Linked DNA regions of Homo sapiens. The protein of the gene in region 3 purifies or fractionates together with the protein of the main gene of each other region. This does not show direct contact. Each region holds a gene or a part of one and is shown on either strand. Other genes may lie near its edges. The genes, in order: ABCB10, UBAC2 and SLC38A12.

Region 1 (3,652 bases), on a different chromosome or scaffold from region 3:
CAGGGGCCTCATTTTCTTTTTTTTTCTTTTTTTTTTTTTTGAGATGGAGTCTCGCTCTGTCCCCCATGCTGGAGTGCAGTGGTATGATCTGGGCTCACTGCAACCTCTGCCTCCCAGGTTCAAGCGATTCTCCTGCCTCAGCCTCCTGAGTAGCTGAGATTACAGGCACACACCACCACGCCCGGGTAATTTTTGTATTTCTAGTAGAGACGGGGTTTCACCATGTTGGCCAGGCTGGTCTCGAACTCCTGACCTCATGATCCACCTGCCTCAGCCTCCCAAAGTGCTGGGATTACAGGCATGAGCCACGGCACCCAGCCCGAGGGGCTTATTTTCAAACCTCCCATAAGACCGACATGATTGCCCTTACAGCTCAACTTCAACTATAAAAGAAGAGTTGAGAGTGCTTGATCTAAAATAATCTGTAACTCCAACATCTGGGCAGTCATTGGACTCTATCCCCACTTAATGGGATGCCAGGAAGAGAGGAAGAGAATGGAGCCTGGAGCACATGAGATTTGAGCCCGAACAAACCCACAGGACTCTACATCTTCTTCAGGATGACTCACATCCCTGAGAGGAGAGACTGTTACCTGAAGTTTGCATGAGGTAGACACGAATGGCATTGGCGGCAGCACCACACAGAAACACGGCACTGAGCCCTAGGCAGAGGCGGGTCAGGTTGTCGCTGTAGTCCACAGTGGGGTTGGTATAGATGACATCAATGATCTTCCCCAGGAAGAAAGGGGCAGACATGGAGATAACACTGGACATCGTGAGAAATCCAACCGCAGCTAGAAAACACAAGCACTCTCAATGTTCAGGTTGCTTCAGCAAAGGGGCTGCGGTGCTGAGTCCAGGAGGCTTCCTTGCCAAATAAGCTGTTGTCAGAGTATGCGTTGATCTCAGTCTCTAGCAGTTTCCTCCCTTTTGCTCCTCGATCTCTGACTCAAGGGAAGAACCAAATGGTTCCAGGTGAGAACAAGCAGGTTGACTAAGGAAGTGAGTGATCATATCTGAATCAGAGAAGATGACTTCTTAGTCTGATCAACTCTTCCTCACCAAGAAAAACTGGGAGCCAACTATGGAACCGTTCTGGCCAGCCCCTTCCTCCCCATCTCTTGATTTTGGTGTTCATCAGATTGTATTTTTCCTCCATTCATGCTATACATGCTATACTCCTTGGCATCTAACTATATTGTAACTTGAAGATCAAGCTGTCTAGTTAAAGCCCTTGATTACATCTAGTATCTCAAAACACTCTGTCTACGGCCATACACTCTGAACGCACCCAATCTTGTCTGACCTCAGAAGCTACGCAGGGCGAGGCCTCACTAGTACTTGGATGGGAGACTGCCTGGGAATACAAGGTGCTGCAGGCTTTAAACAAACAAACAACCCATTCCAGATAACTTTTGGAAAACCGTTTCACGGATCATTACACAGAAGCAAATGTCAATAAAACATGTGATATATTGCTTCTTAATATTGTATTATTGCTTTGCGAAATATCAACATGATATGAAAATAAATATGAACAGGATTGTTCATGCACCTAAAAAACAGGCAAACAAGATAGAGTCTTATCTGAAGAGAAAATATTGGCTTGGCACAGTGGCTCATGCCTGTAATCCCAGCACTTCAGGAGGCTGAGGTGGGTGGATTGTTTGAGCCCAGGAGATCCAGACCAGCCTAGACAACATGGCAAAACCCTGTCTCTACAGAAAATACAGAAACTAGCCAGGGTGGTAGCATGCACCTGTAGTCCCAGCTACTCAGAAGCCTGAGGTAGGAGGATTACTTGAGCCCAGGAGGTCGAGACTGCAGTGAGCCATGATTATGCCACTGCACTCCAGCCTGGGTGACACAGCAATATGCTGTCTCCAAAAAAAAAAAAAAAAAAAAAAATTTTAGAAAATCCACATAAATAGGCCAGGTATGGTGGCTCACGCCTGTAATCCCAGCACTTTGGGAGGCCAAGGCGGGTAGGTCACTTCAGCTCAGGAGTTCAAGACTACCATGGCCAACATGGTGAAACCCTGTCTCTACTAAAAAAAAAAAAAAATACAAAAAATTAGCCAGGTGTGTTGGTGCGCACCTGTAGTCCTAGCTACTTGGGAGGCTGAGGCAAGAGAATCGCTTGAACCCAGGAGGTGGAGGTTGCAGTGAGCCAAGATTGTGCTGCTACACTCCAGCCTGGATGACAGAGCAAGACTCTGTCTCAAAAAAAAAAAAGAAAAGAAAAGAAAATCCAATTAGTAACAACACATATCACAGATAACTGCATTCATAATAAGACAAATGCATTTTTTTAAAAGATAGTGATGGGGGTCTCACTATGTTGCCCAGGCTGGTATCAAACTCCTGGCCTCAAGCAGTCCTCCCATCTCAGCCTTGCAAAGTGCTGGGATTGTGGGCATGAGCCACTGCACCCAGCAAAAAGTATTACTGTTATATAACCTTAATAAAGAGTCCAGAGCAAACTCAGTGCCAACTGGACATTTAGTCGACAAACAGAGTTCTAGGAAAAACATGGGCCTTTTTAAGTGGGGAACATTTAGAAAAATTGCTCTTGCCCCTCCTTAAGGTCTTTATAAAGTCCCCTCCCCAAAAAGGCCTGCTCTGACAGCCTCACTTAAAATACAGACACCCTACACTACCCACCTCACTCCCTCTCCATTTGTGTTCTCGAAGCTCCTACCTTTCAGCATTCTAAATGTTTCACTTGTTTATTTAGTTTCTCTCTCCATTAGGACATAAAAGATTTTGGTCTGCTTTGTCACTGATTGCCTACAGTGACAGGCACATAGGAGAATCTCAATCACTATTTTGTTGGATGAACAAACAAATAAATTGAACTTTGGCAATGGAAGCAATAACGTCTATCAGATCAAAATTCTTCAATAGCCTAAGCAGAAATGTGAATTCTGGCAGCTCATAAAGTCCATATGCCTGGCTTAAAATCCCATAATCACAATCTAACTGAATAATAGGAAGCTGGGCAAGGGTCACTTCATTTTGACGTAAAGCCCGGGGTCTTGTTTCAAAGCACCATGCTTCTTACAACAGTGCCCAAAGGGGCTTGAAGGCCCAAAGGACAGGGAGTGTGTCTAACTTGAGGTTCCGAGTACCTCAGCCTCGATGAACTGGCAGCTCCAGAAAGAGTCATCCTGGCAAATTCAGGATTCAGCAGAAAATTCTTTTTGTCCTTCATCAGTAGCTAATCTCTGTTCTTTCGCCTCAGTGAATAATTCCGAAAGCACAGTGTATGTGACCTGCTATATAAAGGTCCACCTCTTCCCTCCTCCTCTAGTTTTCTAAATCAGTTATGATTCTACAATACGAATCCATATGACATGAATGAAATGCCCCCTAATTATGATTCTGAGTCTTGTTCTCACATAGTAATAATGCTGATTACAAAGAGGAAGTAATTTAGCTGAATCCAAATTAATTTCAGGATATCCCCCCACACTTTTACTTTTTAATAATCATTTAAAAATTATCAGCTTGTTTTATTGTCATTTGCTTCTTTGTCCAATTTGAATGTAAGAAAAGTAAAATATTTTTTGGCTTTTAGTTAACTGGATTCTTGTTAATCAAGATCTGACTACATATCACTGTCTTCTGATATTAATGAATACTTTAGACT
Region 2 (3,652 bases), on a different chromosome or scaffold from region 3:
TAAGGAGCTGCATCACTGGTGTGGCCAGTTAAGCTGGGCCTGCTGAAAACACTCAGGAATTTTCACATAAAATGCTGTCAAGTCAGGTCTCTCAAATCCTACCTGACCTTTTAAGTCTAGGACTCTACATATCTCTGTTAAATTCCATCTGATCATTTTCCAGTCAACCAAAATGAATTATTTTCAATTCTCATTTTGTTATCTACTGTTAATCATCTCCCTCAAACTTGTATCATGCCTAAATTTGATTAGTAAACCTCTACAACTTTGTTCAAGTTATTATTGATGAAAATGTCAAACACGTCAGGTCAAAGAGCCCAGAACTCTGTGTTCAAGGGGTTAATCAACATTTTTAATCAGTTTCAAACCCACTTCATTGCACTATCATTATCCATTCTGCATGTCACCAACATCTCTCATAAGCTGATGAGATGTTGTCAAAGGTCTTGGTGATCTCTTGCCAACAGGATTGGTTTGGTGTCCTAGACCACAGCTGTCTTTTCAACGTTCACAAACCATCTATTTGATAATAATCTGTTTAAGCTTTTGCCAGATGTGAAACTTCAATTCTGCCACTTGGTTCTCAGAATTCACACTTTCCTTTTCCTTAGGAACATTTTCAAGCTAAGTGTTCCTCCCTGTGCTTTCTCAAGCCTCCATCAGGTTGTGCAGGGAGAGGGGCTGGAGGACTCAGGCTGGATATGTGTCATGTGGAAGGAAAACTCTCTCTGATCAAGGTGGTCTTTCCAATCTTGGGTGGAAATAACCTGTATGATGTTCCCTCCAGTTAAGGACCATTGTCATTGGTGGAGATAACTCAGGCCAAACGGGAGCTGGCCTGCCTTCCTTCCACCTACTATCCACCACCATGATGCCATGGCCCCCAAACAACTTGGCCACTCTTAATGACGTTTATTTAAACGGCTTGGAAAAGCTACCTTTACTACTACCTGTAGTACTTCAAGTGCAGCTGAGGACTGGCTGCTTCTTTGCACCCAGCCAGCACAAACGAATCCATTTGCTGTCCACACTCAGCAATTTGGAGATCTGGCAAATGACGATTCATAATCTGGAGTGATGAAGTGTGACTTTAGGCCACAGCTCCACCTGGCACTTGAGCTCTCCCTCCACTGATGATACATTTGGTTTGGAATCCACAGGATGCTGATAATGGGCTGGCTACACACAGGTCACCAACACAGGGCAGCAGCATGGACTGCATGCAGGCCCTGCCCTGGAGAGGGAAGAACCCCTTAGGTCTGGGATGGCTGGGCTGGGTTGTAAGTCACGTAGGTGACATCCTAGAGTAAGAACGAAAGCTTTCTATGTACACGAGACTTCCTTCTGAGTTCATTCTCTCAGACATGAACGACATGTGCCGCGGTGCTGGTTTTGACAACTAAGACTGGCTTTTCACAGGTCTTGGCAGAAGAGAGCGTCTGCTGTCACAGCTTGCAGCGGGCTCGCTCTTCATCCTCTGCGGGGCAGATCATGCCCCTTTAGCCAAAGCTGGCTTCAGAGCTTTAAGTGATTTTTATGGGTGAGAAGACAAGTGTGACAGGAGAACTTTCACTGCCCACTGACCTGTTATTTTCACCAGATTAAAAACTATTGCTAAGTAGCAATAATGTTAGCACAGTTCTTTAAAAAGAATAAACAATTACACTAAGAAAGGGCACCTGAAGGTTTCCCATAGTGTCCAAAACTAAACATCCATGGCAAACTGAAACTGCATGCTTGGGCTTGGGTATGCGATGACAACCAGCCAGCAAGGACGAGAAGGGTCAGGGGATAGGTGTTCCGATGGGTGCTTACCCAATACTCCCCAGTGGAGGGGTGCAGTGCAGTGCTCACAGCCGTGCAAGTTAGCCAAGTGGCCCCTGCTGTCCTTTCTTTATGTAGTTTCAGAGGTTCACCATATAGACAGTAAGAACTGGAGCAAAAACTAGCAGCACAGAGAACAGTTGTCTGTAGGGCTCTTTGGTGGACACTAACAATTACTGCTGTGGCTCTCACTATTCCTCTGCTCAGAGAAGCCCAGCACGCCCAGTCCCCACACATCTCATTACGGTCTCTCCTGGGAAAGCTTACTCGGCATGTGAAGCATCAACTCCTGTGCTCAAATTACAGAAAGACGAAATTGAGGCCTGCGCAGACGTGCAGTCAGGTAAGCAAAACACACGTTAAGCATTCCTAATCTGAAAATTCAAAATCGAAAATGCTCCAGAATTTGAAACTTTTTGAGTACCAACATGGCAGTACAAATGGCAAGTTCCACACCTGACCTCATGTGATGGGCTGCAGTCAAAATGCAGGCCACAACATGTAGTTTATTCAGTGTCTCCAAGGGAAAAGAGACCCTCTCACCCTCCTTCAGCTGTGACATGCCTTTTCTGCACATGCCCCGACTCCCCCACGCAAGCACATGCCAGTGGGCAGGTTCCCCACAATGACCTGCATGGGGCCAAAACCCACGTGCGTCACTCACTGTGCTTTTTTGCTTACTTTCTGCTCTGTGTTATAAAAATGTTGTTAAAATATCTAAAAGGTGTGCAGATACCCTCTGGGTAACAGTGATAAGAAAAAGATTTATGTTTATCTATAGCACAGAAAGTCAAGCTGTTGGAGAAAGTGGAGAGCAGTGTAAGTGTGAAACGTCTTACAGGAGAGTATGGTGTTGGAGTGACCACCATATAGGATCTGAAGAAACAGAAGGATAAACTGTTGAAGTTCTGTGCTAAAAGTGATAAACAGAAATTAATGAAAAATAGAGAAACACTGCATAAAGCTAAAAATGAAGATCCTGATCATGTACCGAGGATGGATCCCTTGGTGTTGCAGTGAACACCTGCCACTTAATGCTATGTGGGTCAGGAAACAAGCAAGGATCTATCAGGATGAGGAACTGAAAATGAAAAGGAACTATGAATATTCAACATGTTGGCTGCAGAAATTTAAGAAAAAACATGAAACCAAATTTTTTAATGTGGTGACAAAGCATCATGAAGCAGCAAAGAAATTCATTGGTGAGTTTGCCAAGGTCATTGCTGACAAAAATCTGATGCCAGAACAAGTCTATAATGCTGATGGAACATCACTGTTTTGGTTTTATTGCTCCAGAAAGACACAACTACAGCTAATGAGACAGCCCCTCCAGGAACTGAGGACATCAAGGGCAGAACAACTTTGCTGGGATGTGCTAATGCAGCAGGCATGCATAAGCGTAAACTTGCATGACAGGCAAAAGTTTGTGTCCTTGCTGTTTTCAAGCAGCGAATTTCTTACCAGACCATTATTATGCTAACAAAAAGGCATGTTTAACTAGGGATATCTTTTCTGATTGGTCTCACAAACATTTTGGACCTGTGGCTTGTGCTCACTGCAGGGAAGCTGGGCTGGATGATGACTGAAATATTTTGTTATACCTTGACAACTTTTCTGTTCATCCTCCAGCTGACATCTCATCAAAAATCATGTTTATGCCATGTACTTTTCCCCAAATGTGACTCCATTAATTCAGCCATGTGGCCAAGGTATTCTTAGATCAATGAAGGATAAATATAAAAGTACCTTCTTGAACAACATGCTAGCAACAAATGAATGGGTATGGAAGATTTTCAACAGGCGTTTAGCGTGAAGGATGCCACACATG
Region 3 (3,652 bases):
TCCATTTACCCATTTATTATCTTCACTGCTCGCTGTCACTTCTCCCCACAACATAAAGTCAAGTCTGCACAGGCAGGGATCTTTGTGGTGAGGCCCCCTCAGTACCCAGAAGGGTGCTTGGTGCACAGATGGGGCAGGGTCACCTCTCAGGGGAGGTGTTTCCAGGTGCTCCTTCCCATCTCTTTTTTGCAGCTTGTGGATTCCTACCCGGTTGAGAGAATGGAAATGCCTAGTCCTAAACCCCTTCCTGGCCTGGGGCACTTGCTGACAACTTCAGACTAGTCCCTACGTGTGTGGGAATCCCCGAGAAGAGCCTCAGGTGGAACCCACCCTCCCTGAAGCACCGGCTGGTGAGGCCCACACACCTGGCTCAAGGAGTAGGCGTCCCTGAAGACCTGGGGAGGTACACAGCAGGCGAGTGCCACACTTGATCGTGCACCCAGGCGTGTGTTTATCACCTACTTCGTGAATTACCTTAAGTAAATTCTAAATTCCAAACTGATTTCCCATGTCACCTTAAATGTTTGTTAGATCTTTTTTCTGTGGCTGGGTGGTATTTTCTCAGACAGCAAAACTTGATGGTAATGTTAATAAAGCATACATTTAATAGCAGGGAGGTAAACCTGCCAGGGAAGAAATAGGCCAGCATCACGTGAAACATTCCAAAGCCTAGTGGATGTCCAGGTTTTTATCTGATCAGGGCTGTGCAACCGCTCCACAAAGACAAGCCACCAGGAGGCCTCTGTGACCACTTTCCCCTCTCTGAATACCCTGGCAAGGACTCACTGAGCTCGATACGGGGTAGACAGGTGTCTTCCCACCCCCTCAGTGCCCTCATGTTCGGGCTTCCTGGGCTGACTCCCTCCTGCTCCACTCCTGGCCCCTGTGGGGAAGTCCCCGCTGCCTCTCACCTCATGAAGCCCAGGAACACCAGCAGGACGAGGCTGACAAGCCACCCGGCAGTGGCGAATGCCTTGGGCATGGTGAGTGCGCCCGTGCCCACGATGAGGTTAAACATGTACACCAGCCCAACCTGGAACCGACAGAGGCAACATTCAAGCCCGGAACTTAATCAACTTCTCCCCTTAACAGCTCCCAAGGAACGACCCTGGTGATGGCACCACTGTGGAGGCCAGAAGGCCACACTGTAGACAGGGAAGGAGGCAGGACAGGAGAATTACACCTGGGGCCTAAGGAGCCAGGCTTGCAACCACAGAGCCTGTTAACCAAACATGAACACATGGATGACTCAAGCCCTGGGGTTCAGTTTCAGTCTCTGCTCCTGCTGTCATCATTGCCGTCCCCTCCTAAAGCTGCATCGCAGATGCTAGCGCTCTACTCAACCAGGCTGTAGGCTTCCCGGGGACAGAGCATCATAGGCGGGGTACCTGGCACAAAGGTGAGCGCATAATGCTGACCTCAAAGAAACACCCACTTTTCCAAGATCACTGAGCATGTGACTCAAGGTCCTCGCCATTGTCCTTTGGGACACGGATATTCATGCTTCTCTTTCTCCACCCCTCTCCCCATACCAACTTCAGGGTTTTTAAAAAAAAAGTTGAGGCATAATTCACATACCATAAAATCCACCCATTTAAAGTACACACATCAGTGGGTTTTAGTAATATTCACAAGGTTGTGTGACCAGTGCCACCAGCTAATTCCATTTTATCACCCCCCAAAAAGCCCATTTCCATTAGCGGCCACTCCCCATTCTTCCCTCCCCGCTTGCCCACCCAACTTCAGGGTGATTTCTCAGGTCACTGACTTCAGGTTTTAAACAACCCACAGTTTACAATGATTCCCTTTCTAAGATCTCAACCATGAATTTCCTGTCTGACCTGAGTTCCTCCCCTTCTGTGATGCTCTCCAGTCCCCCAGCCTCCTCCCCTGCCAATCCTCCCTCCCAGAAGCCCACCCCTATTTTGGCATCATCTGCTTCCTTTCTTGGTGCAATCGGCAGGCTCCACCAAGCACACGCCTCCTTTCCTGGTGTATTTCTCTTAGTATCAACCTTTCTGCAGACCTCAAGTCCAGCTGCCTGCTAGTCACCTACACCTAGACATCCATCCCATCAGTGGCCCCATCCTCCTTCCTTCCCCTCCAGATCACAGTTCTAGTGATTTTATTTCTGGAGCTTCTTTAGTGGCTAACTCTGGCTCCTATCCTTATTTACAATTCAAATGAGTCTTTCCGGCCTGGACTGGTGCAGTAGACTCCTAACTGGTCTTCCTGTACTCTGCTAAATTGGGTGACATACCGTATGCTTTACCACCTGTTTCTGATCATTAAAAAAGACAAACACCTCATCTCTGGGAATGCTTACCCATTTCTCATTTTCACTCCTGTTCTTAGAAAGATGCACTTTTCTCTATTTTAAAGCTTTTCTGAGATAGCCACATGCTGAATTTGTGATAGAAACACAAAAATTGGTGCCCATTCTCCCAGACTCCATCAATTTTGTTTTTTTTTTTTTAAAGCATGAAGAGGACGGATGCAGTGGCTCATGCCTGTAATCCTGGCACTTTGGGAGGCTGAGGTGGGTGGAACACGAGGTCAGGAGTTTGAGACCAGCCTGTCCAACATGGTGAAACCCTGTCTCTACTAAAAATGCAAAAATTAGCTGGGGGGTGGCGTGTGCCTGTAATCCCAGCTACTCAGGAGGCTGAGGCAGGGGGATCGCTTGAACCCGGGAGGTGGAGGTTGCAGTGAGCCAAGATTGCGCCACTGCACTCCAGGCTGGGCAACAGAGCGAGACTCCGTCTCAAAAAAAAAAAAAAAAAAAAAAAAAAAGAAAAAGCATGAAGAAATAGAGATTGCCAACTCCTGCCTTGGAGCTATTGGCTGGGAGAAGGAGGGGCTGGGCAGTGGTTAGAGAAGACAGGCTTCCCAGCAGGTGCTAACTGGATATTTGAGAGCAGGACAAAAGGGAGGCCACCCTGTGGAGAGGAAAGTGCTCTGCCTGCAGTACCTGAATACCTGACACAGGACCAAAGCCCTCTTGTGCCACCTCCCCAGCCCCTCCAACTCCTACCCAGCCTTCAGGGCCCATTCCAATGCAACTTCTACCACAAAGTCCTTCCCAGGCTCCCAAAGTTGTCCTGCCTCCCGCCTTTGAATCCTTGTGGCAACAAAACTTCTTATGCCCTCTCTTGGGTTTTAGATATTGGCATATTTCTCTTTTCCCTGTTACTAAATATGAAGCTCACTGTGGCCGTGGGCTGCGTCTCACTTCTCTCTGCATTTCTCAGGGTGTCTGGCACACAGGCTGGAGATGGGAACACCCAGCTGATTGCACTGGACCCTGCTTATCTCTGACGTGAGTCTGAGAGTCTTCACCATCCAGTTTTGGATGTCACAATCTCAATTTTTATTTTTATTTTTTGAGACGGAGTCTCGCTCTGTTGCCCAAGTTGGAGTGCAGTGGCGTGCTCTTGGCTCACTGCAACCTTGCCTCCTGGATTCAAGTGATTCTCCTGCCTCAGCCTCTGGAGTAGCTGGGATTACAGGCACCCACCATCATGCCTGGCTTAATTTTGTAGTTTTAGTAGAGACAGCGTTTCACCATGTTGGTCAGGCTGGGTCTCGAACCCCTGACCTCAGATGATCCACCCTCCTCGACCTTTCAAAGTGCTGGGATTACAGGAGTGAG

Evidence for each region.
Region 1: the proteins of SLC38A12 (region 3) and ABCB10 purify together in Homo sapiens (affinity purification with mass spectrometry; one large-scale study listed by BioGRID and IntAct). This does not show direct contact.
Region 2: the proteins of SLC38A12 (region 3) and UBAC2 purify together in Homo sapiens (affinity purification with mass spectrometry; one large-scale study listed by BioGRID and IntAct). This does not show direct contact.

The regions. Positions count from the first base shown.
Region 1 is NC_000001.11:229,548,641-229,552,292, forward strand, and holds part of ABCB10 (ATP-binding cassette sub-family B member 10, mitochondrial), read right to left. Parts: intron 945-3,652; exon of another isoform or gene 795-944; coding exon 594-794; intron 1-593.
Region 2 is NC_000013.11:99,378,765-99,382,416, reverse strand, and holds part of UBAC2 (ubiquitin-associated domain-containing protein 2 isoform 1 precursor), read right to left. Parts: intron 1-3,652. UniProt on the Homo sapiens protein: Restricts trafficking of FAF2 from the endoplasmic reticulum to lipid droplets.
Region 3 is NC_000017.11:74,782,863-74,786,514, reverse strand, and holds part of SLC38A12 (transmembrane protein 104), read right to left. Parts: intron 1,034-3,652; coding exon 912-1,033; intron 1-911.